Homo sapiens: one gene and its partner. The protein of the gene in region 1 purifies or fractionates together with the protein of each later gene. This does not show direct contact. Each region holds a gene or a part of one and is shown on either strand. Other genes may lie near its edges.

What was found.
Region 2: the proteins of GLRX3 (region 1) and KLRG2 purify together in Homo sapiens (affinity purification with mass spectrometry; 4 studies listed by BioGRID and IntAct, with this or other methods). This does not show direct contact.

What each region holds. Positions count from the first base shown.
Region 1 is NC_000010.11:130,136,031-130,152,104, reverse strand, and holds the start of GLRX3 (glutaredoxin-3), read right to left. Parts: upstream 15,715-16,074; 5' UTR 15,685-15,714; coding exon 15,593-15,684; intron 6,895-15,592; coding exon 6,786-6,894; intron 1-6,785. UniProt on the Homo sapiens protein: Together with BOLA2, acts as a cytosolic iron-sulfur (Fe-S) cluster assembly factor that facilitates [2Fe-2S] cluster insertion into a subset of cytosolic proteins.
Region 2 is NC_000007.14:139,477,246-139,493,413, reverse strand, and holds the start of KLRG2 (killer cell lectin-like receptor subfamily G member 2), read left to right. Parts: upstream 1-9,740; 5' UTR 9,741-9,771; coding exon 9,772-10,528; intron 10,529-13,166; coding exon 13,167-13,268; intron 13,269-13,641; coding exon 13,642-13,787; intron 13,788-16,168.

The DNA of each region.
Region 1 (16,074 bases):
GGAAGTTGCAGTGAACCGATCGCATCACTGCACTCCAGCCTGGGCAATAGAGTGAGACTCCGTCTCAAAAAAAAAAAAAATTCACACACAACAAAATTAACCTTAAATGTAAGTGGGCTAAATGCCCCAATTAAAAGACTAAAAGACACAGCCTGGCAAATTGGACAGAGTCAAGACCCATCGGTGTGCTGTATTCAGGAGACCCATCTCATGTGCAAAGACAAACATAGGCTCAAAATAAAGGGATGGAGGAAGATCTACCAAGCAAATGGAAAGCAAAAAAAGCAGGGGTTGCAATCCTGGTCTCTGATAAAACAGACTTTAAACCAACAATAATAGACTGGATAAAGAAAATGTGGCACATATACATCACGGAATATAATGCAGCCATAAAAAAAGGATGAGTTCATGTCCTTTACAGGGACATGGATGAAGCTGGAAACCAGCATTTTCAGCAAACAATCACAAGGACAGAAAACCAAACACCACATGTTCTCACTCATAAGTGGGAGCTGAACAATGAGAACACATGGACACAGGGAGGGGAACATCACACACCGGGGCCTGTTGGAGGGTGGGGGGCTGAGGGAGGGATAGCGTTAGGAGAAATACCTAATGTAAATGATGAGTTGATGGGTACAGCAAACCAACATGGCACATGTATACCTATGTAACGAACCTGCACATTGTGCACATGTACCCTAGAATTTAAAGTATAATAATAATTTTAAAAAAAAGTTTTGATAACTTCTTTAAATACTTTCACCAAACTTAGCCCAGAAACAGCTAATAAAACCATGTTAATTTTGGGTTTTTTTAATTACCAAGATAGCACAGATAAAAACCTACAGTCTTTTTAAGATTTAACAATTCTACCAGAGCCGGGCACGATGGCTCATGCCTGTAATCCCAGCACTTTGGGAGGCCGAGGCAGGCGGATCACGAGGTCATGAGTTCGAAACCAGCCTGGCCAACACGGTGAAACCCCGTCTCTACTAAAAATACAAAAATTAGCCAGGAGTGGTGGCACACACCTGTAATCCCAGCTACTCAGGAGGCTGAGGCAGGAGAATTCCTTGAACCCAGGAGGCAGAGGTTGCAGTGAGCTGAGTTCACGCCATTGCACTCCAGCCTGGGCGACACAGTGAGACTCTGTCTCAAAAAAAAAAAAAAAACAATTCTACCAGAATTATCTGAGACGCATTTTTAGAGTTCCTTCCTGTAGAATGAAATCCAACATATGCTCTCTTAAGATGCCAAATAAATTGGCCAACATTCTCTGCCACTGAAAAATTTTAATTCCACTAGTTAGCATGCACCTGGTTATACAGCTAGTTGGTACCCTTCGGAAGATTGCCCAACACTATCTGTTTACATACAGTAATTATACACTCAGAAATTAAACATAAACTACATTTACATTTATAATGATTGTACAGATCTTTAGAAATTCAACAGTGCAATCTGTATCTTTAAGATAGTCGCACTTTCAAAATAAGAATAAAGATTCTTGTTTTTCAAGAAGCAAAAATACATTTAAATACGTAACTCCTCCATACCCTTGATCGTATATTTTAAATTACAATGAAAATAAAATGCAAGTACAGCAGCTACTATATAAACAAAATTAATGTCAAATGAAATACAATAGTATAAAATCTCACCAACCAGCTAGCTGGTAAGTCTGACTTTGAGAATGTTTGCACTGAAGTACATGATATGGTAAAATGAGTATACTATGGCCTAGCAGGATGGGAGCAGTAAGCTGGAAGTGGGATCAGGGAGGCTTGCATGGAAAGCAAGAGCCATTCGAACAAAGGAAAGTCATTTTTTTCTTTTTCTTTCTTTCTTTTTTTTTTTTTTTTGAGATGGAGTCTTGCTCTGTTATCCAGGCTGGAATGCAGTGGTGTGGTCTCAACTCACTGCAACCTCCGCCTCCTGGGTTCAAGCAATTCTCCTGCCTCAGCCTCCCGACTAGCTGGGAATAGAGGCATGTCCCACCACAGCTGGCTGATTTTTTTTGTATTTTTAGTAGAGATGGGGTTTCACCGTGTTAGCCAGGATGGTCTCAATCTCCTGACCTCGTGATCCACCCGCCTCGGCCTCCCAAAGTGCTGGGATTACAAGCGTGAGCCACCATGCCCGGCCCTATTTTTTTTTTTTTTTTTTTACTAATGAAAACCTGATGAGGTAAAGGTCCCCATGTCAAGTATCTCACCATCTAGTCAAGGAGGCAATGAAAAAAGGAATTAAATGACAATATAGACAAAAATATAGGGCATTTCCTGATCCAAGCAACCAATGGCACAGAGACCAAAAAAAAAAAAGCTACAGGAAAAAATAGCTACGATTTCATACAAAATAGTTGATTTGGATCTCAAATACAACCAGCAGCAGGCACCCAACAAAGCCTTGTGCTATTCTTCCTCTCTCCCACCCCCCTCTGCCAGATACCATATTTTGGAAGATTATATCAAACAATTAATTAAATGACAAAGGTGTACTCCTATTTTGGGTAAAGATACAAACAAGAATCAGTATGAGAGAAGATACTGACTATGTAATTTGAAAATAAAAGGCACTAAAACATTTTAACTATTTCATTTTATTCTGAATAAACACAAGGTTTCTCTAAGACTTTTCCTGTTTTGTTTTTTTTTTTTGAGACGGAGTCTTGCTCTGTCACGCAGGCCGGAGTGCAGTAGCGCGATCTCGGGTCACTGCAACCTCCACCTCCTGGGTTGAAATGATTCTCCTGCCTCGGCCTCCCGAGTAGCTGGGATTACAGGCATGCGCCATCATGCCTGGCTAAATTCTGTATTTTTAGTGGAGACAGGGTTTCACCATGTTACTCAAGCTGGTCTTGAACTCCTTTTAGTGATAGAAATACCACATCATCTCCTCTGGGCCCTAGGAGGTGTGACAAACTCAGGACGGAGCCCAGAAGAGCCCACTAGACATGGCAGTGACTCAGGTAAATGGAACACCACCCATTATAAACACAGCACCCAAAAGGAGTACAGATGCACTTTTTAATTTTTTTTTAAGAGACAAGGTCTCACTCTGTCACCCAAGCTGGAGTATAGTGGCACAATCATAGCTCACTGCAGCCTCTAACTCCTGGACTTAAGCAATCCTCCCACCACAGCCTCCCAAGTAGCTGGGGCAACAGGTGTACACAGCTAGTTTTTTAAATTTTTATTCTGTAGAGATGAAGTCTCCCTATGTTGCCCAGGCTGGTCTCGAACTCCTGTCCTTGAACAATCCTCCCACTCACACCTCCCAAAGTGCTGGGATTACAGGTGTGAGCCACTGTGCCCCACCCCAAATACACTTTACGACCATATCATCAATACAGAGAATGAGGGATTCAGATGCAATAAATATGAAAACCTTGTCTTTCAGCATTCAATTCCAAAGAGCACAAACTAACTACTCTGACCAAAAATGGGTGACTAACTCTTCTAACTCTATTTTTACCAGCTCCTACAAAATAAGAAATTGTTGATAGTCACAAAAGTTTACAATCTGTTTAAAAATATCTAGTGTATGATCACTTATTTAATGATTTTATAAATCCCAGTCACAAAAATGAACTGATCCCTTTACTTCACAAGCCAAAAATGCCAAACCATTTCATCATTAAAAAAAAAAAAAAAAAAAAAAAAAAAGACTGAAGGGCAAAGTGGCTCACATCTATAATCTGAGCACTTTGGGAGGCCAAGGTAGGCAGACTGCTTGAGCCCATGAGTTCAAGACCAGCCTGAGCAACATGGTGAAACCGTATCGCTACAAAAAATACAAAAATTAGCTGGGCAGGGGTGTACACCTATAGTCCCAGCTATTCGGGAGGCTAAGGTGGAGAAATTGCTTGAGCCTGGGAGGTAGAGGCTGCAGTGAGCCAAGATCACTGCACTACAGCCTGGGCAATAAGAGTGAGACCTTGTCTCCAAAAAAAAGACTAAGAAATCAAATAGACACAAGATGAAGCAGAAGAACATTAGTTCATACTCTAGAACTTTCCAAAAACTCTCATTAACAAAAAGAAAGCTGTTTTAAAATGAACTACATTCCTCCTTTTTTTTGAGACATGGTATCACTCTACGTCCAGTGGTGTGACCGCCTTGAGACCTCCTGGGCTCAAGGAATCCTCTGCTTTATCCTCCCAAGTAACTGGGACTACAGGTGCACACCAACATGCACAGCTAACTTTTTTAGTTTTTCTTTTGTAGAGATGGTTTTGCTATGTGCATCAGGCTGGTTTTGAATTCCTGGCCTCAAGCAATCCTCCCACCTCAGCCTCAAGAGGTGTTGGGATTACAGGTGTGAGCCGAGGCGCCCAGCCTGCACGCCTCTCTTACTGGGAAAGAACGATGATCTCTCATTCTACTTCTCTTTTGCTTACTATTGTCCGGCAAGTGCCTTTTAATTAGCTGCCTTACAAATGCCATGGAAAGTACCTTTGCCCTTAATGATGGCTAATCAAAGAAAAACTATGTTATAGAGTGAATTTCTGGAAAGTGATGACTCCTGGAAGAATGACCAATCTTACGCTGTCATCATCCTCATGAGTGGCAGGTGCAGTCAGGCTCAGGTATCCCCCACAACCCAAAATCGCTGAGGGCTCCTCCAACCTTTGGCTCACAGAGATACTTAAGCACTTGAACAACTTAAAATCTCACTGCCAAGTCTGGTACCAATGTGAGAAGTAATTCTATAGTCACTTTAAATAAATCATTCAGATAGCAGCTAAGAACAATGTGTTACCTAAACCAGTAACATGATACACATAAAAGCAGACTTAGAACAATTACCATCATCTTGATTAATCTTATGATTGAAATGTTTAATCATTCATTTCACTTGTAATCATTATCTTTTATCACTGACCAAACATGCAGTTTTAATGCCCCCTTCTATTATTTATATTGGACATTTTAGGGTTACACTCTACAGTTACATTATACATTTCATTGGAATTTTAAATAAGTCCTTAAATTTTAAAAAGCTAATCACTATATTCACATCTGCCCTATTTGCATAAAGAAACACTAGAAGGATTCATACAAAATTAATACAAGCAGTTACTTATGTGGTGGGACACAAGGGTGACAACAGAGGAACGGGGTGGGCCTTCTCAACGGACATCTTTCTACACTGTTTGGAATTTTGAGCCAACTGAGTATAATGCCTATTCAAAGCAAACTTATTTATACAGAAGCCTCCTGAAAATTTTATCACCTACTATACGAATGAATTACCCTGTCAAAATTCTGTGTTTTCAGTTTACATAGAAAGAGGCATACAGACCAATACAGTTGATGTTATTTTTAATCCCATATATGAGTATATTGGGTAACATGTACTCTGAACTCACAGATTCTTGTTTTAAAAAATAAGACTTTGGTTTTTCATTTGTTTTTTAAATCTTAAGGATTCAGGCTTGGGAATACAAGGTGCACCTCCCCTCCTGATAATTCATTTCTAAGACTCTCAACACATATTTTGGCCCTGCTGCCTAAACCAGTACTAAGTCCTGAATAATATCTTTAACGTGCTAAACCAATTGAGTTAATCCACAGTCAAAACTACAGCTTTCCTAGCACTCATCCACTCAAGAGAGACAGCAGGAATGTAGGAGTACACATAACCAGAGTGAAAAACAAAAGAGGCAAGGAAGAGACTGACTGGCTTCCATCTTCCTCTACATTCTGAACAGGTTAGAAAGACTTTCACCTTCTCCCGGAGGTCTGCCTTCATCTAAACCAAGATAGCAACTTCCTGTTCCCTGGTCCCTAGCAGCATTTACATACCCCTTCCTGAATTATTTTCTACAGCACACCTAGCTTTTCAATGACATAATTTGTGTTACTATTTTAAATGCCTTAAAACCACAGTTACCCACAGGGAACTAATTTGTCTGCCTGTGCTCTCCAAAACTCCAGCCCACAGCCACCTTGACATTTGGTAGTCATGCCTCACACCCGAGGATGATCAAGGAAAAGTGTACATTTGGCCAGGCGTGGTGGCTCACGCCTAATCACAGTACTTTGGGAGGCCAAGGTGAGCAGATCACGAGGTCAAGAGACCAAGACTATCCTGGCTAAGATGGTGAAACCCCATCTCTACTAAAAATACAAAAAATTAGCTGGGTGTGGTGGCATGTGCCTGTAGTCCCAGCTACTCGGGAGGCTTAGGCAGGAAAATCGCTTAAACCGGGGAGGCAGAGGTTGCAGTGAGCTGGAGCTGCACTCCAGCCTGGGCGACAGAACAAGACTCTGTCTCAAAAAAAAAAAAAATGCAAAATTATTTTAAGATTTTTAAGAATGATGTGCAAAAATAACAGATCCCACACCAATTATACATATTTGGAATTCCATACCACTCCATCTTTATATTAGTTAATAAAATCTAATTTTTTATTTTATTTATTTATTTATTTAGAGACAGCGTCTCGCTCTGTCACCCAGGCTGGAGTGCAGTGGCACAATCTCGGCTCACTGCAATCTCTGCCTCCCGGGTTCAAAAGATTCTCCTGCCTCAGCCTCCCACATAGCTGGGATTATAGGCACCCGCCACCACGCCCAGCTAATTTTTGTATTTTAGTAGAGACAGGGTTTCACTATGTTGGCTGGGCTGGTCTCAAACTACTGAACTCAGGTGATCTGCCCGCCTCAGCCTCCCAAAGTGCTGGGATTACAGGTGTGAGCTACCGCACCCAGCCCTAATCTAACCCATAAATCAGAATTAAATTCACAAAAGACATGACATTGAAATATAAATACCTTCACAAATGAAACTTGAGGGAGTTCTTTAGCTAACTCTGCCATAACTTCGTTCATCTGTGCACACTGTGGAGCCCATGGTGCCCAGAAATGGACCACAAGGAGGGACCTGTAAATCAATTAAATGCATTTATTTAAAATTATACCAATTTTGGAAATACACAAATACTGATATAAATTACCAAAAAGAAAAAAAAGAAAGCTTTAAAAGAACCGTCTGAAGTTTTTCATATTGCTAGAATTTTGTTGTATACAACACTGGAACATAAAAGCACTCTGCAAGGTCTTGAGACTCTTTCAGATAAATTTTCAATTCAATGATATTTCAAGTGAAGCCCATTTGAAGTAGATCTGAATATTCATCCACCTCAATTAAAAGTCATGTAAATCACTGTTGGTGGGAGTGTAAATTAGTTCAACCATTGTGGAAGACAGTGTGGCAATTCCTCAAGGATCTAGAACCAGAAATACCATTTGACCCAGCAATCCCATTACTGGGTATATACCCAAAAGATTATAAATCATTCTACTATAAAGACACATGCACACATTATGTTATTGCAGCACTATTTACAATATCAAAGACTTGGAACCAACCCAAATGCCTGTCAATGACAGACTGGATAAAGGAAATGTGGCACATATATACCATGGAATACTATGCAGTCATAAAAAGGAATGAGTTCATGTCCTTTGCAGGGACATGGATGAAGCTGGAAGCCACCATTCTCAGTAAACTAACACAGGAACAGAAAAACAAACATTGCATGTTCTCATTCATAAGTGGGAGGTGAACAATGAAACCACACGGACACAGGGAGGGGAACATCACATACCAGGGCCTGTCAGGGGGTGGGGGGCAAGGGGAGAGAAAGCATTAGGACAAATACCTAATGCATGCAGGGCTTAAAACCTAGATGATGGGTTGATAGGTGCAGCAAACCACCATGGCACATGCATACCTATGTAAGAAACCTGCACATTCTGCATATGTATCCCAGAACTTAAAGTAAACGAAAAAAAAAAAAAAAAAGCCAGGCAAATCAACCATATTTTCAGACCCCTGGGCAAAGTGGAAACTGAATTTCTGTATTAATGGCACAATGTTTGTGAAAAATGGTTGTAGACACATTACTAATAATATCATTATTTACTTTTTAAATGTGGTATAGTGATGGAGAGACATAACCGTGACCATAGAAACAGCAGTAAGTGTTGAAAATGAAGGCATGCCAGTGCAAAACGAGGAAAAGAATAGAACTGCTTTTCACAAAGACTTTTTTTTATACTTTTTAATATTATGCTACAAAAGATTTTTCTAGACCCAGAGCAGTGGCTCACACCTGTAATCCCAGCACTTTGGGAGGCCGAGGCAGGCAGATCACTTGAGGTCGGCAGTTCGAGACCAGCCTGGCTAATGTGGTGAAACCCCAACTCTACTAAAAGCACAAAAAATTAGCCGGGTGTGTTGGTGCATGCCTGTAATCCCAGCTACTCAGGAGGCTGAGGCAGAAGAATTGTTTGAACCCAGAAGGCAGAGGTTACAGTGAGCTGAGATCACACCACTGCACTGCAGCCTGGATGGCAGAGCAAGACTCTGCCTCAAAAAAAAAAAAAAGATTTTTCTAGGCCAGGCAAGGTGGCTCATGCCTGTACTCAGCATTCTGGCAGACTAAGGTGGAAGGATTACTTGAGCCCAGGGGGTCGAGGCTGTAGTGAGCCATGATCATACCACTACACTCCAGTGTGGGCAACAGAGCAAGACCCATTTAAAAAAAAAAAATTCTAAACATTTATAGTATGAACACACAGAATATATTAATAACTCAGTATCTATTTTAGTTAGTTTTCACACAAAATTATCTTGGCAAAGATATCTATGGTCATATCCAACTAAAAAATCCTTCAGTTTTATGGAATTCTGTTCAAATATAATACCACCTCCCAAAAAAATCTGAAAAATCACGAACAGAAATATGTTCCATGGCAAAAAGAACCAAGGACAACTAACCTATGGGTAAGGAAAGGAATAACAAACTGTAAAAACTGATCAAATAATACCAGCGAGAAGAGAATAAGCCTACAATAAAGTGTCAGGAAAGCAGAAGCAAAGAGCAGCATGAGGATTTCGAAGGTAGAAGGGGCAGGATTTGGTGACAGATAAGGCAGTCTACAGCTGGCTCCAAGTTCTGGCTTAGAGACTGATGGCTAGTGGTGGCACTATGCCTCAAATCATAGTGCAGAAGCTGCCAACCTGAGGAAAGGAAGTTTAATGGGTTGTTAGTATGATGTCTAGAGCTCAGGGAAGAAGTCTGCACCTGATATACAGATTTGGGAATCAAGAAAGGAACAGTGCCAGCACCACACCGCAAAGGGTTACAGAGGGACACAGAGGAGACCCGAGGTCAGCGCCTCAGGGGGCTTATCAACATTAAGTTAGGACAGATGGAGGAGAAGGAACTTATGTAGTAAAGCAGAGAAGGGGTCCTAGGCGGTACTGGAAGATTAAGGGGTCCTAGGCGGTACTGGAAGATTGAAGGGTCACATAGAAGTCAAGAGAAGAGTGTCAAGAGGGAGTGACAATCATCCAATGCAACAGGAAAGGGCAACTAACAGAGAGAGTACCTTCAATGGAATAGCAGAAGCACAGGTCAGACTGCAGTCCACTGAGGACTGAAGTGAAGATGAGGAAGCAGAGATGTACTCTAAGAGATCTGTACAGGCAGAGAAAAAGACAAAATCAAGGGATGGGCCTTTTTAATACAAGAAAATCCTTATATGTTTATTTTACTAGGGGATAGTGCAAATGGAGAGGGAAGGGCCGTAGACACAAGACAGCTGAGGATGCAAGGACTCAGAAGAGGCAGGAGAGGGGAAATCCAGAGCAGAGAAGAGCTTACCTTGAAGAAGAAGAAGGCAGTCTCCTCTGAGTCAGGAGCCAAGGAATTAAGAATGGGTAAGGCTACAAATAAATGGTAAGTGTTGGGAGAGGTGAGAGTGGAAGGAGGGCTTGGGGAGATGCTACCTGAAATCCTGTTTTCTCTCAGGTGGGAAGCAAGGTCATTTATCAAAGCATAGGAAAACAGAGGGCAAGACCACTGGTAGGACTGATGAAGGGAGAGTGTCCACAGGCACACAAGGAAAGCAGGAAGCTCCAAATGAAGACCCACCTAAGGCAGGGAAGGACACATTGTAGGAGCCCCTAGTCACCGGATGTTAATTTGCATCCAGCACAACTCAGCAGCTTCAATGGTTGAGTAGGTGGGGCCTCAGGTCCACGGCAGAGACTGTGCTGTTTCAATCAAGCACTGTTTCATCTTCCTCCTGTGCATTCAGCTAGATTACATTTTTCAGTCTTCCTTGCAGTTGTCTGGGGCCCTGGAACTGAATTCTGGCCCTAAAACTAGAACACAGGCCTGACCCCTCAAAACCCTCCCTCAGGAGCCTCTGCCCACCATAGCCTCCAGCAATGAAGAGGATCCAGGGAAGCTTTTTTGTCCATTGCCTAAGGATGGCAAGAACAAAACAGAGGTTCACAGAGGCCTCATGCAAGAATGCTCACAGCAGCCCTATACATAATAAATCAAAACTGGAAATTAGCCAAATGTCCGCCAACAGGAGAAAGTGATAGACATTCATACAACAGAATGTAACTTACCAGTAAAAAGGAACCAACCACAGACATGAGCAATGACACAAATGAAGCTTGAAAATATGTGAGCAAAAGATAACACAGACAAAGAACTGTATGATTCTACTCACACAAAGTCCAAGAGCAGGGAAAACTCATCTACAGTGACAGTAAGAAATCAGTAGCTGGGCTAAAGGGGATGGAAAACTTCCTGGGTTCTATATTCTTCCTGTGAATGGTGGTTATCGGTGTGTATACAATTGTGAAAATTCACCACATCTGACGATTAAGATCTGTGCATTGTTACTGTATGTAATACTTCAATTTCTTTTTAAAGCTGGGATACCATTTTCCACCAAATTGACCAAAAAAAAAATTTTTTTTTTCTTTTTTTGAGACAGGGTCTTACTCTAATGCCCAGTCTGGAGTGCAAGGCAAGTGCAGCCTCGACTTCCTGGGCTCAGGTGATCCTCCCACCTCAGCCTCCCAGACTACAGGCATATTTTGTTCTTTGTAAAGTTGGGCTTTGGCCAATGACCAGGCTGGTCTCAAACTCCTGGGCTCAAGCAATCAATCTGCCTGCATTCGCCTCTCAAAGTGCTGGGATTACAGTCATGAGCCACCGTGCCCAGCCAACAAAAGGACTGTTTAAATCATAATATTCAATGATAAAAAGGATGACGAGAAGTACTTTCATGTCCTGCTGGTAAAAATTAAATTGGGACCTTTCAGAAATTTCTTACACATAAGTATCAATCCTAAGGAAGTAATTAAGAGACAAAGATTTTCTGTACATGGATATTTTCCCACTACTTTACGTAGCAAATCAGAAAAATTTCTGATGCTCAATAATAGTTTTTAAATGGTCATAAGAAAACATAAAGCCATTACAAATCAAATTTTCAAAGAACTTTCAACGCCACAGGAAAATACTAATATAACTACATTTTTCAAAAATTAAAGTAGGTTACCAAACTTTATAATAGTATGAGCCCAAATAAGTAAAAAAGAAAAGAAGAAAGTATGCCATAGAAACTGAATTCATTTCAGTTTCATTATTACTAACATGGTTTTGAAGAGTAATTTAACTTCCACATCTGTAAAACAGCAATAACCAACACTCTGGGATGTTGAGAAGATGAAACAAAAATATAAAACATTTGAAAACATTAAAACATGATATTGTTAGTTGAAATTATCCACAATATTCTCCTATTTAATGCTTACCTTCCATTTCTCAATTAAGCACATAATGTCCAATATTATAAGGACATACTATATCTGAAACAAATATAAACGTTATCCCCTTTTGGATTACATGTTACAGTATTCTTTCCATCTTAATGGATAGCCCCATATGCCTGGAGCATTGTTGGAGAAAAACCATCAGACAAAAACCACATTCAAATCCTGACTAATGTAACTTTAGACAATGTAATAAACTTCAGCTCTTCATCAGCAAATAGTTGTTTTTCAATTATTATAGTATTCTGCTACTACATTCATCTGCAGATACCAGCTACTGCTTATTAAACATATCATATACTAAACCTGCTTACTCTGCAAATGGATATTAATAACCCCATTGTACAAACCAGCTGAGATTTCAGCAACTTATGTAAATATCTGATTCAACTACTTAAAAGAAAAAAATTTCAATTCATGTCAAATTTTAAAATTGGAGAAGCGATGATTTGGAAAGTAGATTTAAAATTATTACATCAACACAAGTACTAAAATTCGGGCACTTTTTGTTTTTTGAGACAGGGTCTCACTCTGTCACCCAGGCTGGAGTACAGTGGCAGGATCATAGCTCACCGCAGCTTGGAACTCCTGGGCTCAAACAATCCTCCCACCTCAGCCTCCTGAGTAGCTGGGGACTACAGGCATGCATCACCATGCCTGGCTACTTTTTTTATTTTTTGTAGAGATGGGTTCTATGTTGTTCAAGCTACTCTCAAACTCCTGGCCTCAAGCCATCCTCCCAAAGTGCTGGGTTTGCTGGTGTAAGCCACCATGATATTCTTTTTTTGGTTTTTTTTTTTTTGAGATGGAGTCTTCGTCTGTCGTCCAGGCTGGAGTGCAGTGCCACGATCTTGGCTCACTGCAAGCTCCGCCTCCCAGGTTCATGCCATTCGCCTGCCTCAGCTTCCCGAGTAACTGGGACTACAGGCACCTGCCACCATGCCTGGCTAATTTTTTGTATTTTCTTTAGTAAAGACGGGGTTTCACCGTGTTAGCCAGGATGGTCTCGATCTCCTGACCTCGTGATCCACCCACCTCGGCCTCCCAAAGTGCTGGGATTACAGGCGTGAGCCACCGCGCCCGGCCTAATATTCTTAAATGTCTCCATCTTCACCAAAAAAGCTGCAGAAATGTGCTCCTTCCCCAGATGCCACACATCATTTATCACGTGTCCGTTTGAACTAGTCACTAAGGAAAGTGCACATTGTTTCCTGGGCCATTTCAAGTACAGGCCAGCGGCAAGGATACAACATCCAAATGGTACTTACATTTAAACTTTTATCCATTTTGGCCGGGCGCAGTGGCTCATGCCTGTAATCCCAGCACGCTGGGAAGCGGGCCCATCACCTAAGGTCAGGAGTTCAAGACCAGCCTGGCCAACATGGTGAAACCCATCTCTACTAAAAATGCAAAAATTAGCCAGGCGTGGTGGCGGGCACCTGTAATCCCAGCTACTCAGAAGGCTGAGGCAGGAGAATCATTTGAACCCGTGAGGCAGAGGTTGCAGTGAGCCAAGATTGTGTCACTGCACTCTACTCCAGCCTGGGCAACAGAGAGAGACTCTGTCTCCCCCCCAAAAAAAAAAAAAAAAAAAAACACTTTTATTCATTTTGATAGTTTAAGGACTTTTTAAAACATGAAGCATTTAAAACAAACATGTAAAACAGACAAAACAGCCTTTCAGGTGATGGTAAATTCAAAACGTTTACTTAGGGCAGGTCCACACAAGACCTGCTCATTTCAAGAGGCCACTTCTGGTGACTCCTGTGATTGTGCTGATCTGTACTGGATGAGTCAGAGCCCAGCTTCCATCAGTGAGTAAATGTCACATGTCCCTCCCCAACCCCTGCTTTTTTCCGTAACAATTTCCCAGGTAAACCTGAAATGCCTAAAGAGCTGTTTAAATAACACTTTAATTTCATCACCCCCATAAAGCATTTCTAACCATTAGTCAGTAACTCGCACCCCTCCCCATTTCCAAAGGCAACACCCCATCTCACCTGCACTCTCCATTGCAAAATCAGAGTACTACTTGCCTCTAATTCAAATTCAGTCGGCAAAATTTCACTCAATTTAGATCAACAGGGCAGGTCACGGGGGCTCAAGCCTGTAATCCCGATACTTTACAAGGCCGAGGCAGGCGAATCACTTGAGCTCAGGAGTTCCAGAGACCAGCCTGGGCAACATGAGGAAACCCTGCCTCTACGAAAAATACACAAATTAGCCCAGCGTGGTGGACCGCACGTGTAGTCCCAGATACTCAGGAGGCTGAGGTGGGAGGATCGCTTGAACCCAGGAGGTAGAGGCTGCAGTGAGCCGAGATCACGCCACTGCACTCAGCCTGGGCAACAGAGCAACAGCCTGTCTCGAAAACAAACAAAACAAAATTTAGATCAATAAGCATTTCTGGCCGGACGTGGTAGCTCACACCTGTAATCCCAACCCTTTGGGAGGCTGAGGAGGGCAGATCGCTCGAGTCCAGAAGGTCGAGACGAGGCTGGGCAACATGGCGAGACCTCGTCTCTATAAAAAAAAATAAAAATTAGACGGGCGTGGTGGTGAGCACCTGTGGTCCCAGCTACTCGGGAGGATGAGGTGGGTCGATCACTTGAGCCTGGGAGGCGGAGGCTGCAGGGAGCCGTGATCGCTCCACTACACTGCAGCCTGGGTGACAGAGCCAGACCCTGTCTCAAAAACAAAACAAAACAAAGCTTTTTGCCTGTGAATTCCATGAACCATTCTACTTCCTACTGAAATACTAAGTGCCAACATCTACTGAGTGCTTCCTGCATACTAGGCATTGTATTATTTGTATTTTACATACGTCATCTCATTTAACCCTCACAACAACCCTGAGGTACTAACAGGTGCTAATCTATGTCACCGTCGGGAAACTGAGGCTTGGGCATGAAACGTGCCCAGGGGTTACATGGCTACTGAGTGGCTGCGGTGGGACTGGATCCCAGGCAATCCGACATAAGAGTTCCCATAACAACCGCTAATAATACAACTAAGAGAACAACTCAGTCCTTGGAGTAGTCTACAATGTGAGGTGGTATTATCACGGAGAGTCCACGTGCAGACCTTTCCCTGCAGGCACGCACGCTAGTAAGCATTTACTCGTAAGCATGCTTGCAGTTCAGAGCTTCTAGTCCACCCAGAAAACGCTTTCTATGCATTCCTCTGGATCTCCTTTTGTAGTCTTCCCAGGGATTGAAGACCTGGACACCGGCGCCAAATCTGAACAGACTCTCACTACACCAGTTCATGGAACAGGAAATCTCTGTCTCCGGCAACAGGTTAAGTCTGAAGACTGAGGCTACCTGCTGTCCAACAAACTTTAAAGGCTGACTTCAAAAGGCAGCCAGGCCTAGCTAATGCAACGGGGCCTTCCCTCGCCGCTCTTCCTGCGACAGGGGCGTTCCTGAAGGGAGGCTGAAGAGCAATGGGCCGACGCCGAGCCTGCCGCTCCCTCCCGGCGGGCACAGGAAAGGTGGAGCCCGCAGCCGTGGGTCCCGCTCCGTGGCGCGGAGGGCCGGGGTCTCGGCGCCGCCCCGTCCCCCGCCCCGCCACTGCGGCACGGCTGAGTCACCACCGCCTCCGTCCCGCGGCGGGGCCGCCCAGGCCAGAGGCCGGGAAGGTCGCGTCCCCCGGGCTTGGACAGCCGTCGGGGTCGGAGCCAGGGCTGGGGCCGGGGCTTCCAGGCGAGCCTCGCGCCCTGCTCGCTGTTCCGGGGCGGGGAACCTGCGGCTCGGGCCACTCACGCGGAGGCTCGGGGGAGTCTACGGGTGGCGCCGGGCCCGGTCCCCCGAGGCCGAAGGGAGCCGGGCACCAAGAAGCCAGGCTGGGCCACCCGCCGCCCCACACCGGCCCGGTCTCGCGGCCGCTCCCGCTCCGGCTCCTCACTCCTACCGCTCGCCGCCCCGCTTACTTGGCTTTGAGGCGCAGCAGCTCCTCAAACTGCCCGGCTGAGCCGACCTCCTCCACGGCCGCTACAGCTGCCTCAGCCGCCCCCGCCGCCATGCTGCCGCCGCCAGACAGAAGCAATCCAGTGCCGGCGGCCGGATGTGGGCGGGGCCACGGGGAGCTGAGCGGCTGCGCGAGGGAAAGCCCCGCCCCTGCCTGCGCTGAGGCTGCCGAGCCTGAGAAATCCCAAAAGGGGCCTCGGCGGCGGGCTCTGGATCCCGCTGGGGGGCTCTGACCCTGCCAAGTCTGGGCACTCCGCTGCGGGCCTCCTGGCTCCCGGGGTTCATGGCTGTTATGGTTCCTGGCTGTCGGGGCTCCTGGCTTTCGGGGCTCCCTGGCTGAAGGGGCTCCTGGCTGTAGGGGCTCCTGGCTATGGAGGTTCCCGGTTATAAGGGCTTCTGGATGTAGTGGATTCTGGCCGTCGAGGTCCCTGGCTGTCGGGGCTCC
Region 2 (16,168 bases), on another chromosome or scaffold:
GAGGTCAGGAGTTCAAGACCAGCCTGGCCAACATGGTGAAACCCCGCCTCTACCAATAATACAAAAATTAGCCAGGCGTGGTGTCATGTGCCTGTAGTCCCAGCTACTTGGGAGGCTGAGGCAGGAGACTCGCTTGAACCCAGGAGGTGGAGGTTGCAGTGAGATGAGATCACGCCACTGCACTCCAGCCTGTGTGACAGAGCGAGACTCCATTTCAAAAACAACAAAACAAAACAAAACAAACAAAAAAGCCAAAGCAGATGGTCACCAAATCACATGTATATCCAAATACAAGATCATTCATATAAGGTGGGGGAGATACTGCAGCACGGCCTCTCCTTCTACCTGCAGGGAGTTTTCTGAAGGGAAGAAAGAGCCATGATTAGGCAGAACAGGAACTGGAGAAATCACAATAGATGAGGGGAACCTATGGTGAGGCAGTAGCACTAAGACTGCGGGAGAATAGTAAACTCTAGACCAAGCAGGCAGGATCCGGTCTAAGAGGCAAGGTGGAGTAGACGGTTTTCAATGGCAGGTTTTCACAACAGGCTAATGGATTCAGCTTTAAATGAGAGGGAAAAAGGGAAGGGAATGGCTAGGAACCATGTTGGGACAGACAACTGGGCCAAGCTTCAGGTGAGACTGACCTAAGGAAAGTCTGGCAGGAAATGGAGTCCAGGGCCTGGGCAGACTGGCCCTATGCTCAGGGGTTAGACAGGGAAGCTCCTGTGTGTTGAGTGTATTCACCAGAATTCATGTGTTGGAAATTTGGTCCCCAATGTGGCACTGTTGGGAGGTGAGGTTAGTAAGAGGTGACTAGATCATTAAGTGAAATCAATGCCTCTCTTGACAGCATAAATGGGTAAATTATTGCACTCACTTGCCCTTCCCCTTTGCTGCCATGTTATGATGCAACATGAAAGCCCTTACCAGAAGCTGCTGCCATGCCCTTGGACTTCCCAGTCTTTAGAACTATAAGAAATCACTTTCTTTTCTTTTCCTTTTTTTCATTTTTTATTTTTTTGAGACCAAGTCTCGTTCTGTTGCCCAGGCTTGAGTGCAGTGGTGTGATCTTGGCTCACTGCAACCTCTGCCTCCTGGGTTCAAGTGATTCTCCTGCATCAGCCCCCTGAGTAGCTGGGATTACAAGACATGTGCCACGACACCAGCTAATTTTTGTATCTTTGGTAGAGATGGGGTTTCACCATATTGGCCAGGCTGGTCCTGAACTCCTGACCTCAAGTGATCTGTCTGCCTTGGCCTCCCAAATTGCTGGGATTATAGGCATGAACCATTGCACCTGGCCTTTTCTTTTCTTTGTGAATTACTCAGTCTCAGAATACCTGGCAGGTATTCTGCTATAGCAACAGAAAATGGACTAAGACAGAAACTGAGGAGAGACTCCCAGCCACCTGCACATTAGTGGTGAAGGACCCCTGATACTTCCCAGGCCAGCTCTCCCTCCCATATTGGTTTAGGGTTTCAGTGTTAGGAGCCTGGCAGTGGGTGGCATGGGGCAGGCATGAGTCCCTTGCATCTCAGGGAATCAGAATATCTGGTGTCTCTCTATCTTGGGCAGTGCTAGAGAAACTTGCCAAATTCTTGTATTTGGGAGACCTTATATTCTACTCTTTTCTCCACTCCTCCCCACTTTTCCCTGAAAATGATTTCTTCATGGCTTTTTTTCCTGATTATAGAAATAATTACCACCTTTGTCTTAAAACACACATGAACACATAATAGCTGTTAATATATTTGATTAGACTACAATTTTCTACATTTAGTCATGACTTTCTGGTGGTGTATTCTAGGCCTTTGATTAGATTTTTGCAAGGCCTGTTTGATTTGGGGGATACTTAGGCCTCAAGACTCTTGGACTAGCAAATCTCATTCATAATGGGCTGATTTAGTTCAGAGGGGAAGAAGATACTATTATCCTTAAATCTGGGACCTCTTCACCAAGGTGCTCCTGGGCACTTGTACCTCCTCCCTTTGCTACCCTCAGTCTCTGGTGACAGGAGTCCCACACAGCCTGGCAGGAAAAGTCTGTTACACACCTGTGATGCAAGGAAGTGCTTTTCCTGGTCTCACATATCCAAGCCCAGCCCTACTCCATTGCTCCCCCAGGTCTCCTGGTCCTTCTACCTGCTCCCATCTAGGTCTTTCCAAGTATTGAACCCCAGACTCGACAAAGTCAGCTAACGCTGGGGACACTAATGCAGAGGAGAGCTAGGTCTGCCCCCCATATCCCTGAGCCACAGCTGTCTATCCACACCATTACAATCCCACAAGTGCTGCATTGGACAGGAAAGGATTCTGGGGATGGAGCTTCTAAAAGGGAGGGTTTTGTTTTGTTTTGTTTTTTCTTTTGAGACGGAGTCTCACTCTGTCACCCAGGCTGGAGTGCAGTGCCACAATCTCAGCTCACTGCAAACTCCACCTCCCGGGTTCAAGCGATTCTCCTGCCTCAGCTTCCTGAGTGGCTGAGATTATAGGCGCCTGCCACCACGCCCAGCCAATTTTTGTATTTTTAGTAGAGACGGAGTTTCACCATGTTGGTCAGGCTGGTCTCAAACTCCTGATCTCATGATCCAGTTTTTTTGTGTGTGTGTTTTGTTTTTTTGTTTGTTTGTTTTTGAGACGGAGTTTCGCTCTTGTTGCCCAGGCTCAAGTGCAATGGCATAATCTCAGCTCACTGCAACCTCCGCCTCCTGGGTTCAAGTGATTCTCCTGCCCCAGCCTCCCAAGTAGCTGAGATTACAGGTGCGTGCCACCAAGCCTGGCTAATTTTTGTATTTTTAGTAGAGATGGGGTTTCACCATGTTGGTCAGGCTGGTCTCAAACTCCTGACCTCATGTTCCTTTTTTTTTTTTTTTTTTTGAGATGGAGTTTCCCTCTTGTTGCCCAGGCTGGAGTGCAATGGCGTGATCTCAGCTCACTGCAACCTCCACCTCAAGGGAGGGCCTTTGTTTCAACACACAGATGTCTCAGGGAGCTGTTTTCCTGCTGGCCATGGCTCTTCTCCAATTCTCCCGGGATAAGCTTGTGTGTATTCAGGTGGAATGTTTTCTCAGTCCCTGCCTTACCCACACTCTTGACCTAAAGCTACCTTTTGTTCCTCCCCTAGAGCTGCCTAGCTCTCTCTCCTCTGCCTCGCCCAGCTGCAGGTGGATCCTCCACTAAAATGAGGCTGCCTCGTCACTCCCATTGGATGGCTGATGTCTCAGAAAGTTACAGGGGATGGGGGTCAGGGGTGCGGTGTGGCTGAAGGAACTGGAAAGTGAGGCCTAGTCTGTTAGTAACGGGAGCAACATCTATACCTCTGCCCCAGCCCATGACCTGCATGGACTCAATCAGCGGGAGACTGGGGATGAAACATTCGGGGAACCAGGAGGACTAGGGGAGCATAAAGCAGCAAAAGGGGAGAAAAGATGTGTTTGGGAGCCGGAGCTGCCCAATGACATGCTGGCTTTCCCACTTAGGAGCCGTGCACCCCTACACTAGCTCCTCAACCTCTCTGAATCTCAGTTTCCTCACCTGTGAAGTAGGGATTTTAGTTATTATGAAGAGTAAATGGACCCAACAGCCAAATGTCATGCTTGAACCCTGATGGGAACCTGGTTGGAAAAAAAATTAGAAAAATTTAAATTTGGTCTCCAAAATATCACCTGGCTCGGCGTTATTGTTCATTTCTTTGGTGTGAGAATGGCGTTGTACTTATGGAAAACACGTGTATTCTTCGCAGATGCACGCTGAAATATTGAAGGGTGAGGCTTCACGAGGTCGGCAGCTCACACTCAGATGGTTCCATAACAACAGAGAGAATGTTTGCACAGAGGTGGAGAGAAGGACAAGAACGATGTGTGAAATGCTAACTGTTGAATCAAGGTGGAGGGCGTTCACGTGATCACCATTTATTCTTTCCATTTTTCTTAATGTTTAAAAATGTGTCAACCAAAGATTGAGGGGGGGAAGAGAGACCAGGTGTGTGAAGCACTCTGCACAATGCCCCATTCAGCATAATTTATTTAATAAATATTCACTAAGCTCCTGGCGGAGATGTCAGTCAAGAACCAGGGATGGCGTGTCAGATACTGATCTGGGGATGCAGTGAGGATTTCTAGGGGGCCAGAGACAAGCATTAAAGGGTGAACAACCATGTGCACGTGCTGACCACAGACTGTGGAGAATGCTAGGAAGACAGCTGACAGGTGAGAGACCAAGGTGGGGGCTTAGGCGGTGTGAGGGGATGTCACACTGGCTTGGGTACCCTCTGAGCCTCTGAGCAGGTGGAATGTGAGCTGGGGATGGGCTGTGCCAGGGAGCTGGCTGTGCGGAAACCCCTCTCCTTCCTCATCTGTGTCTCCAGGGCCCCTAGAGGGGCCCAAGATGCCACGGGGATGACATCAGCCAAGAACCAGGAGTGGGAATGTTTGCCTCCTCTCTGGGGAATTAAGCTGCAATTTAATTTATGCTTGTAGAACTCAGTCTGTTCGGACAGACCAGATACCATCAGCCACCCTTGACCAGTGAACCTCATGGTGTGGGGCAGGAAAAATGATGAGGATTCCTGCAGGGCCACCTCCTGGAACCAGCCAGTGATTTGGAACTGGCATTAGAGGAAATGTTAGTGGTATTTCATCCAGGCCCTGACAGTGTCCAAGACACTTCTCAGTAGCACAACTAACAAATGAAAAGATGTTCAGCTTCATTCATAGTTAAAGAAATGCAAGCTGGAATTCAATATTTTTGCCCATCAGATTGGTAAGGACTAAGAAGATTGATGATACGGAGCGATGGGGCGGCCACGGGAACAGCCCTCGCATCCTTTGTTTGTTGAGCCTCTTGTGGGTAATTTAGCAGTACCCATCACATTCAAAATTCTGACCACCCTTTGGCTCAGCAATTTCATTTTAATGATTCTATTCTGAAGATATTTCAGAGATGTGATTTTTAAAAACAATATATACAAGTATGCTCACTGAATTATATCTATATCATGTTCAGCATTACAGTAATTATGTCACCCAAATGGAAACAACTCAAACGTCCATCAGGAGACTTCTTAAATAAATTACATATAGGAAAACATTTAATATGAGTGAAGTTTTGGAAATAAAGATATTTATATATATAATAACAGTACAGGTTAGTGTATACATTTGTTTAAAAATCTTGAAGACTGCATACCAAAATGTTAATAACAGAAATCTCTGGAGCATAGAAAACAGGGGACCTTTCTTTTCTACAGTATGCACTTCTGTAATATCTATATTTTGTATTGCAGACATACATTGCTGTTGCAAGCAGAAAACAGGATTTTAAAGTGAGGGAAAGGGAGAAAAGGATGAAAGGAAGGATCACGGTAGATATTTGTTCTTTTTTGCCAGCCAACATCTGAACCCCCTTGAAACATTTGGGTAATTCACCTATCTTAGGATGTCTCAATTTAGAAGTTGTAAATGGCCTTCTGGTGCCAGGCTGCTGTGCTGTGTCACAGGAGGTATAGAGAGACTCCATCGAAGCCTGGCCCTCACCCCAAGACAGACGTGGAGCCCAGTGAGACTTGGGTTTTCGGCCACTTGCAATCAGTTCCTCCTTCCTTCCTTCCTTTTATCTACCTTCCCTTCCCTCCCCCTTCCCTTCCCCCTCCCCTTCACCTTCACCTTCACCTTCACCTTCACCTTACCCTTACCCTTACCCTCCCCTCCCCCTTCCCCTTCACCTCACCCTTCCCTTCCCCTTCCCCTTTGTCTTCCCCTTTCCTTCCCTCCTCTCCCCTTTACTCTCTTTCTCTCCTTCCTTTCTTTTTGTGAGACAGGATCTCACTCTGTTGCCCAGGCTGGAGTGCAGTGGCACAATCACAGCTCACTGCAGCCTCAAACTCCCAGGCTCAAACAATCCTCCCGCCTCAGCCTCTCTAGTAGCTGAGACCACAGGTGCATGCCACTGCACCCAGCTAACTTTTTGCTTTTTTAGTAAAGACAAAGTCTCCCTATGCTGCCCAGATTCAAACTCCTGGGCTCAAGTGATCCTCCTGCCTTGGCCTCCCAACGTGCTGGGATTACAGGTGTGAGTCACCATGCCTGACCCAGAGTCTTAAATGATAAGGCAAAAAGTGGAGGAGGTATGAGAAGGATACTCAGGGTCTCGTGAAATCCACAGAATTGAACAAACAAGCTTTAGGAAGGGCTGAGATCGGACAAACTCTGGGGCCCAGAGCAGGAGTTTCTGGGCTTTCTCTCTAGGGAGCTGCCCTACTAGGAGCTCTGACAACACTCGGCTCTGGGTCTCTCATATCTAGTGTCAAATTCCTGCAAAGAAGAACCTAAGCTCAGGAGAAAGATCTGGGCTTGAAGGTCACTGACGTATGGTGGGTGAGAAGCTCTGCAGCAATTTTCAAAGGAACAGCCAGGAAGGCAGAAGGAGAGCTGGTAGAGGTGGTGTCAGGAAGCCCACAGGCCACAGATGAGTGGGTTTTTGAGAGGAGGAAGAAATGATCATAATGTCAAAACCTGAGAGATAAAACGAGCACTGAAGAGCATCTGCAGGCCGGGCACAGTAACTCACACCTGTAAGCCCAGCACTTTGGGAGGCCGAGGCGAGAAGATGGCTTAAGGCCAGGAGTTCAAGACTAGCCTGGGCAACATAGCGAGACTCCTCCATCCTTATAATATATATAAAATATAACATATATATATATATATATCTTTTTTTTCCAAAAATGGAAAAAAAGCATTTGCTGGGTTTGGTGACTTGTACCCTTGCCAAGGAAAATTTTGGCAGACAGATGGGGGCAATTACCTTGTTAAAAAAGGTTGGTCATGGCCCGGTGTGGTGGCTCACGCCTGTAATCCCAGCACTTTGGGAGGTTGAAGCGGGCAGATCACCTGAGGTCAGGAGTTCAAGACCCTGTCTCTACTAAAAATACAAAAATTAAGCGGTTGTGATGGTGCACACCTATAATCCCAGCTACTTGGGAGGCTGAGGCACGAGAATTGCTTGAACCCAGGAGGCCATGGTTGTAGTGAGCCGAGATCACGCCACTGCACTCCAGCCTAGGTGACAGAACAAGACTCTCTTTCAAAAAAAAAAAAAAAGTTTGGCCACGACAAGGAAGAATAGAGAGGGTGTTAGCAGGAGGAGGGTACTGGGCCCAAAGAGGCATTTAAAACTTGAACATGTTGAGTGATGCCCTTGACTGATGAGGAATGAGCAGAAGCCTCGTAGTGGTGGAGAAGGACCCTTTGGTGAAGCTTTCCCAGGTGATTTTCTGCTAAAGTTTTGGCTTTCTCAAAACACTCTCATAGTAAGCAGATGTTATTGCTCTTTTGCCCTCTAGAAAGCCAACAAGCAAAATGCCTTGAGCATCCCAAAAAACTGTTGCTGTGACTTCTGCTCTTGACCTGTCCACTTTTGCTGTGACTGGGCCACTTCCACCTCTTGGGAGCCATTGCTTTGTGCTTTGTCTTCAGGATCCTACTGGTAAAGCCACGTTCCATCTTCTGTTACAACTCTTCAGAGAAATGCTTCAGGATCTTGATCCTACTCGTTTTAAATTTCCATTGAAAGTTCTGCTCTTGGCTGCAGCTGATCTGGACGCAATGGTTTTCCATAGAGTGGAAACTTTGCTCAACTTTAATTTTTCAGTCAGAAAAGTGTAAGCTGAACCAATTGAGACGTCTTTGGTGTTGGCTGTTGTTTGTGCTGTTAATCGTTGGTCCTCTTCATGAGGGCACAAATAAGATTAATTATTTTACTCAAAAATTGATGTGGATGGTCTGCCACTGAGGGCTTTATCCTCAACATTGTCTCATCCCTTCTCTTTTTTTTTTTTTTTGAGATGGAGTCTCCTTCTGTCACCCAGGCTGGAGTACAGTGGCACAATCTCGGCTCACTGCAAACTCTGCCTCCCGAGTTCAAGCAATTCTCCTGCCTCAGCCTCCCGAGTAGCTAGGATTACAGGCACCCACTACCACGCCCGGCTAATTTTTTGTATTTTCAGGCACCCGAGTAGCTGAGACTACAGGCGCATGCCACCATGCCAGCTAATTTTTTGTATTTTAGTAGAGACGGGGTTTCACTGTGTTGCCCAGGCTGGTCTTGAACTCTTGAGCTCAGTCAATCCGCCCACCTCGGCCTCCCAAAGTGCTGGGATTACAGGCGTGAGCTGCCGCGCCCAGCTTAATTTTTGCTTTTTTAGTAGAGACAGGATTTCAGCATGTTGGCCAGGCTGGTCTCGAACTCCTTACCTCAAGTGATCCACCTGCCTCGGCCTCCCAAAGTGCTGGGATTACAGGCTGAGCCACCACGCCTGGCCTCATCCCTTCTTAAAACGAGTTTTCCATTTGCAAACTGCTGGTTTCTTGGGGGCATTGTCCCCATGAGCTTTTCATAAAAATATCAATGATGTCACCATAAATGTGATGATTATTCTTGCTTCAAATTTAGCAGAATCCTTGTTGCTCTGACAGGAGCTCTTTTCAAACTGATGTCTTATCCTTCTTAGTGCCTCAAACTAGATCTTGTCGAGACATGTGATAACAAGTTAGTACAAATTTATTTTGGTGCCAAAAAATTTTCAAATCCATGCATAGTTTTTTTCATAGTATGAATTTTCCATGAACCTTTTGAAGACCGCTTGTATAGAAAAAAACAGTATATATAGGGTTTGGTGCTATCCAAAGTTTCAGGCATTCACTGGGAGGTCTTGGAACTATCCCAGTGGATAAGGGAGGACTACTATGCTAAAAACTATCCCTTGTTTAACTGAAATTCAAATTAAACTGAGTGGCCTGCATTTTATCTGCCAACCCTACCCTGGGGGCACTTAAAAATACCAGAGGCCAGGCGGGGCGCGGTGGCTCACGCCTGTAACCCCAGCACTTTGGGAGGCCGAGGCGGGCAGATCACGAGGTCAGGAGATCGAGACCATCCTGGCCAACATGGTGAAACCCCGTCTCTACTAAAAATACAAAAATTAGCCGGGCGTGGTGGGGTGGGTGCCTGTAGTCCCAGCTACTCACGAGGCTGAGGCAGGAGAATCGCTTGAACCTGGGAGGCGGAGATTGCAGTGAGCCGAGATCGGGCCACTGCACTCCAGCCTGGCGACAGAGCAAGACTCCGTCTCAAAAAAAAAAAAAAAAAGAAGAATTGCTTATCCACGCCCTGTTTCTTTTCTCTTAGCGTTACTCAGTGGGGGAGTCCTCCCAAGTATGATGGAGAGTCCTTTCGAAACCCTGCTGGATTGTCAGGACAACCAACTGGGCTACTTTTCCACAGGTCGCCCCAATTCCTTTGGATTCTGATTTCTCTGAGGTCCCAGGATCCAGACAGGCTTGGCCAATCCTTCCCCGCCCAAACTGTAACTCTCAAAACCAACACCCCGGCATAGGGCTGGAGGGGAAAATGGGTGAGGTCAGAGACAAAGAAGAGGGAAGGGTCAGGCGGGGCTCCGGGTTCCCTGCCACAAGCCTCCGCTGGTGTTCTGCTTTTCTCCCGAGAGCTCCCGCCCACCCTGCAACCCTCGCCTGGCCCCGCTGCCGTTCTCAGCTCCCTCCCAGTGCCTGGTGGAGGCCGGGGCTGTGTCCCGAAGGGGGTCGGGGCAGCAGAACCTCAGCCACAGCCAATCACAGCGGGGTCCTTCGGGGAGGGGCGTGGCCTGACAACTTCGGCGACGCGGCTGGACCAATCCGGACGGAGGAGAGCGAAGCTCCTCTGCACTGGGCCCAGGTGCGCTCCTCAGCGTCTCCGGGTGGCGGGGCGCGCGGGATGGAGGAGTCTTGGGAGGCTGCGCCCGGAGGCCAAGCCGGGGCAGAGCTCCCAATGGAGCCCGTGGGAAGCCTGGTCCCCACGCTGGAGCAGCCGCAGGTGCCCGCGAAGGTGCGACAACCTGAAGGTCCCGAAAGCAGCCCAAGTCCGGCCGGGGCCGTGGAGAAGGCGGCGGGCGCAGGCCTGGAGCCCTCGAGCAAGAAAAAGCCGCCTTCGCCTCGCCCCGGGTCCCCGCGCGTGCCGCCGCTCAGCCTGGGCTACGGGGTCTGCCCCGAGCCGCCGTCACCGGGCCCTGCCTTGGTCAAGCTGCCCCGGAATGGCGAGGCGCCCGGGGCTGAGCCTGCGCCCAGCGCCTGGGCGCCCATGGAGCTGCAGGTAGATGTGCGCGTGAAGCCCGTGGGCGCGGCCGGTGGCAGCAGCACGCCATCGCCCAGGCCCTCCACGCGCTTCCTCAAGGTGCCGGTGCCCGAGTCCCCTGCCTTCTCCCGCCACGCGGACCCGGCGCACCAGCTCCTGCTGCGCGCACCATCCCAGGGCGGCACGTGGGGCCGCCGCTCGCCGCTGGCTGCAGCCCGGACGGAGAGCGGCTGCGACGCAGAGGGCCGGGCCAGCCCCGCGGAAGGAAGCGCCGGCTCCCCGGGCTCCCCCACGTGCTGCCGCTGCAAGGAGCTGGGGCTGGAGAAGGAGGATGCGGCGCTGTTGCCCCGCGCGGGGTTGGACGGCGACGAGAAGCTGCCCCGGGCCGTAACGCTTACGGGTGAGTGCTCACCTGCGCCGGCAGCCGACGCCGCCAGGTCGGGTGGACGTAGCCGAAACCCCCACACCCGCCCAGCCCTGGACCGCTGGGCAGCTGACCGACTAAGGGACCCAGTTGGCCATCCCGATCCCCAACCCGATCTGGCCTCTCGGGCTTACAATCAATAACATTCCTGTCTACGTAACTGTAATTCACATTGTTGCCGTGTCTCACGCCTGTAATCCCAGCACTTTGGGAAGCCGAGGCGGGCGGATCACCTGAGGTCAGGAGTTCGAGACCAGCCTGACCAATATGATGAAACCCCGTCTCTACTAAAAATACAAAAATTAGCCTGGCATGGTGGCATTCACCTGTAATCCCAGCTACTCAGGAGGCTGAGACAGGAGAGTCGCTTGAACCCGAGAAGCGGAGGTTGCAGTGGGCCGAGATCATGCCATTGTACTCCAGCCTGGGCAACAAGAGAGAAACTCCGTCTCAAAAAAAAAAGAGTAAAGCCACTCCCCTTCTCATCCTCCCCTACCCGCACTCCCGAACTTTCAAATTCCCTCTTAGCATGCGCAGCACCTTTGAGAAGTAGCAGTGGAAGGAACTCCAGATGAGGGGAAGTCATTCAGGATCAGGTGGCAGGGGTGGCAGCCCAGATCCCCCCATCCCTGCACTGCCAAGGACTTTCTGGAAGGTCCAGGCTGCTGCTTTCTTTCCACCACACTGAGGAACATTTAGCCCCAAACACTCATCCATTCAGTAGATAGTGAGTGGGACCACAGGGTAGATGTGCCAGTAGTATGTGCGGCTGGTTATTTTGTGGTGTGGGGGAGGGGGAGCTTGACACAGAAGAAAGAGCCCACAAAAGATACAGACTGTCCTGGATAAGGAGACTGGAGGGAGTAGTTGGTGAATTTGGGGCAAGAGATAGCCAATTTTTTTCTTTTTTTCTTTTTTCTTTCTTTTTTTTTTAAGAAATAAGTTTTGCGCTTGTCACCCAGGCTGGAGTGCAATGGCACAATCTCGGCTCACTGCAACCTTCGCCTCCTGGATTCAAGCGATTCTCCTGCCTCAGCCTCCTCCCGAGTAGCTGGGATTACAGGCGCCGGCCACCATGCCTGGCTAGTTTTTGTATTTTTGGTAGACAGGGGGTTTCATCATGTTGGCCAGGCTGGTCTGGAACTCCTGACCTCAGGTGATCCAGCCGCCTCAGCCTCCCAAAGTGCTGGGATTACAGGTGTGAACCACCGGGCCAGCCAGAAAGCCACATCTTGAAAGGTGAGTAGGAGTAGGGGGTGCTAGGGATCCCTGCTAGGTAGAGAGACTGGAAGGAGCAACGGCCAGGAGGGGTCAGAGCCCCGCCCAGCAGGCAAACTGGCAAAAGCTTGGCTGATTGAGAAGCAGGCCAAGCCCACTGACAGGCACCAAATTCCCAGGGCCTCTAGTTGAGAGGTTCTTAGACAGGGCTAGGGTTCAGGGGCTTGGATCACTCAGGAACTTTTGCAGAGTTTGATGTGAGCACATTTTCTGTGTGATGGAATATTAGTTTTCTATTGCTGTTGTAACAAATTACCACAAACTTAGTGTCTTTAAGTGACACAAATGTATTATCTTACAGTTCCGTTAAGTCAGAAGTCTATAATGCCGGCTCACTGGTCTAAAATCGAGTTTTCAGTGGGGCTGCATTCCTTTCTGGGGGTCTAGGGGAGACTCCCTTTTCTTGCCTTTGCTAGCTTCTGGGCTTTTCTTAGGTCAAGCCCTTCTCTATATTAAAATCCAGCGTTGTTGGTAGAGTCCTCCTGCTGCCACTTCTGATGCTCACCACCTGTCTTCCTCTTCCACATATAAGGCTCCTGAAGCTGGGCACGGTGGCTCACGCCTGTAATCCCAGCACTTTGGGAGGCCAAGGCGGGCGGATCACTTAGGGTCAGGAGTTCAAGACCAGCCTGACCAACATCGTCAAACCCCATCTCTACTAAAGATATGAAAATTAGCCAGGCATGGTGGCAGTCACCTGTAATCCCAGCTACTTGGGAGGCTAAGGCATGAGAATTGCTTGAACCCAGGAGGTGGAGGTTGCAGTGAGCTGAGATCATGCCACTGCACTCCAGCCTGGGCGATAGAAAGACTCAGTCTCAAAAAAAAAAAAAAAAAAGGGCCAGACGCGTTGGCTCACACCTGTAATCCCAGCACTTTGGGAGGCCGAGGTGGGCAGATCACAAGGTCAGGAGTTCAAGACCAACCTGGCCAACATGGTGAAACCCCGTCTCTACTAAAAATACAAAAAATTAGCCGGGCATGGTGGCACGCACCTGTAACCCCAGCTACTCAGGAGGTTGAGGCAGGAGAATTGCTTGAACCCGGGAGGCAGAGGTTGCAGTGAGCCGAGATCGCACCACTGCACTCCAACCTGGGCGACAAAGCAAGACTCTGTCTCCAAAAAAAAAAAAAAAAAAAAAAAGAATATCTGGCTTCTTTCTCCAGAATATAAAGTTGGAACTTAAACGTTGTGGTTTATGTTGGCATCCCAGGCTGAGGGGGTGGGTGCTGGGGTGAGGTGGGTGAGATGCTGGTGTGCTGTGTCTGTGGTTCTGAGTTGGGTTGGTTGGGATGGTCTCCACTAATCTGATTATCCTGTTTGCCCCCGTCCCAGGGCTACCCATGTACGTGAAGTCCCTGTACTGGGCCCTGGCGTTCATGGCTGTGCTCCTGGCAGTCTCTGGGGTTGTCATTGTGGTCCTGGCCTCAAGAGCAGGTATGGTGTCCCTGCAGTCCCCATCCCCTCTCCCTGCCGCTCCACTACTGGGGCTGTGTTTCCAGCCCTTAAAACACCTTAGAATTAGAAAGAGACACTGGGAGATGCAACACGAAGACATGGTGCTTGATGAGCAAAGTTAAGGAAAATGGGTGCCTTCCTCCCACTGGATACAGCTTGTGCCCTGATAAGCAATCAGATGCCAGCTGCCACCCCGGGGACTTTGTGCACTGCACAGACTATAAAAGCTCCCTGGGGCCCTGCCCACCTTGAGGTTTGCCAGTTCCATGCCCCTTCATTTGAGGCAGCAGCCAGGCTTTGTTTATTTAATGCAGCTTACCCTGCAGCTCACCAGCAGTCTCTGTGCTTGCAGGAGCCAGATGCCAGCAGTGCCCCCCAGGCTGGGTGTTGTCCGAGGAGCACTGTTACTACTTCTCTGCAGAAGCGCAGGCCTGGGAAGCCAGCCAGGCTTTCTGCTCAGCCTACCACGCTACCCTCCCCCTGCTAAGCCACACCCAGGTGAGAAGGGGGTGTCCAATCTAAGGGGGTACAGATCTTTCTAGACCACAGAATCCTAGCACTGGAAAGAAGCTTAATGATTGAGTCCAGCTCTTCATTATAGAAATCACCAAGGTGTAGAGGAGTAGCATGACCATAACTTCGTGCAGCCTCTAACTCCTGTGCTCAGGCAATCCTCCTGCCTCAGCCTTTTGGGTAGCTACAGGCATGTGCCACCATGCCCAGCTTTAAAAAAAATTTTTTTTTGGCCAGGCACAGTGGCTCACACCTGTAATCCCAGCACTCTGGGAGGCCAAGGCAGGCGGATCACAAGGTCAGGAGTTCTAGACCAGTCTGACCAACACAGTGAAACCCTGTCTCTACCAAAAATACAAAAATTAGCCGGACATGGTGGCGGGCGCCTGTAATCCCAGCTATTTAGGAGGCTGAGGCAGGAGAATTGCTTGAACCTGGGAGGCAGAGGTTGCAGTGAGCCGAGATCACTCCACTGCACTCCAGCCTGGGCAACAGAGCAAGGCTCCGTCTCAAAATAAATAAATAAATAAAAATAAAAATAATTTTTTTTTAAGGGACAGGGTCTCACGATGTTGGCCAGGCTGGTTCAAACTTCTGGCCTCAAGTGATCCTCCTTCCTTAGCCTCCCAAAGTGCTGGAATTACAGGCCATGAGCCACTGCGCACAGCCAAGCACTTATGTTTTTAATCGTTGGTCTCTGGGTCATCTTTTGATAGGCTGGGCTTGGCTGGACAGCTCAGCTTTATAATGCAGATTGCCAGGGCTTGGTTTGAGGCTGCAGGTTGGGTCTGTGTAGAATATTCCATCCCCATGGGAGAGGGAGAGGAGTGGATGTTTGCTGAATAGTAATCCAGTCAGTGGGTTTGAGAGCATCTACAAAAAGGGACCAATAGATAGGATCCAGTCCTTGGCATAATTTTGTTTTCCTTTTTTATTTATTTATGTGTTGTGTCTCACTCTGTTGCCCAGGCTGGAGTGCAGTGGCATAATCTCGGCTCACTGCAACCTTCACCTCCCGGGTTGAAGGGATTCTCTTGCCTCAGCCTCCCAAGTAGCTGGGATTACAGGCATGTGCCAGCACACCTGGCTAATTTTTGTATTTTTAGTAGAGATGGGGTTTCTCCATGTTGGTCAGGCTGGTCTCAAAATCCCCACCTCAGGTAATCCGCCCGCCTCGGCCTCCCAAAGTGCTGGGATTACAGGTGTGAGCCACTGCGTCCAGTGTTGTCCTTTTTTTTTTTTTTTTTGAAACAGGTCCTCACTCTGTTGCCCAGGCTGAGTACAGTAGTGCAGTCATGGCTTACTGCAGCCTTGAACTCCCAGGCTCAAGCAATCCTCCCACCTCAGCCTCCTGAATAGCAAGGACTACAGTCATGTGCCACCACAACTGGCTAATTTATTTTTTGTAGAGACACAAGTCTTGCTATGTTGCCCAGGCTGGTCTTAAACTCCTGGACTCAAGCGATCCTCCCACTTCGGCCTCTCAAAGTGCTGGGATTACAGGTGTGAGCCACTGTGCCTGGCTTTTTTTTTTCCCCATTTAAAAAAATTGTGGGCCGGGCACAGTGGCTCACGCCTGTAATCCCAGCACTTTGGGAGGCCGAGGCGGGTGGATCACAAGGTCAGGAGATCGAGACCATCTTGGCTAACACGGTGAAACCCCGTCTCTACTAAAAATACAAAACATTAGCCGGGCGCGGTGGCGGGCGCCTGTAGTCCCAGCTACTCCAGAGGCTGAGGCAGGAGAATGGCATGAACCTGGGAGGCGGAGCTTGCAGTGAGCCGAGATTGTGCCACTGCAATCCGGCCTGGGCTAAAGAGCGGGACTCCGTCTCAAAAAAAAAAAAATTGTGTTAAAATACACATAACATAAAATTTACCATCCTAGCCATTTTAAGTGTACAGCTGAGTGATATTAAATACATTCATAATGTTGAGCACCTATCACCACCATCCATCTCCTGAACTCTTTTCGTCTTGTACAACTGAAACTCTAACCCCTCTAAACACTGATTCCCCATTTCCCCCGCCCCCAATCCCTGGCAGCCACCAAGCTGCCTTTTCTCTCTCTCTCTTTGGTTTGAACTATTCTAAGAACCTCATACAAGTGGAATCGCACAGTATTTGTCTTGTTGTGACTGGCTTATTTCACTTAGTATCATGTCCTCAAGGCTCACCCGTGTCGTAGCCTGTATGAGAATTCCCTTCCTTTTTAAGGCTGAATAATACTCCATTGTGTGTATGCACCACATTTTGCTTATTTGTTCACCGGTCAGTGGACAGACCCTTGGGTTGCTTCCATGTTTGGGTTGTTGTGAATAATGCAGCTATGAATTTGGGTGGACAAATATCTCTTCGAGACCCTG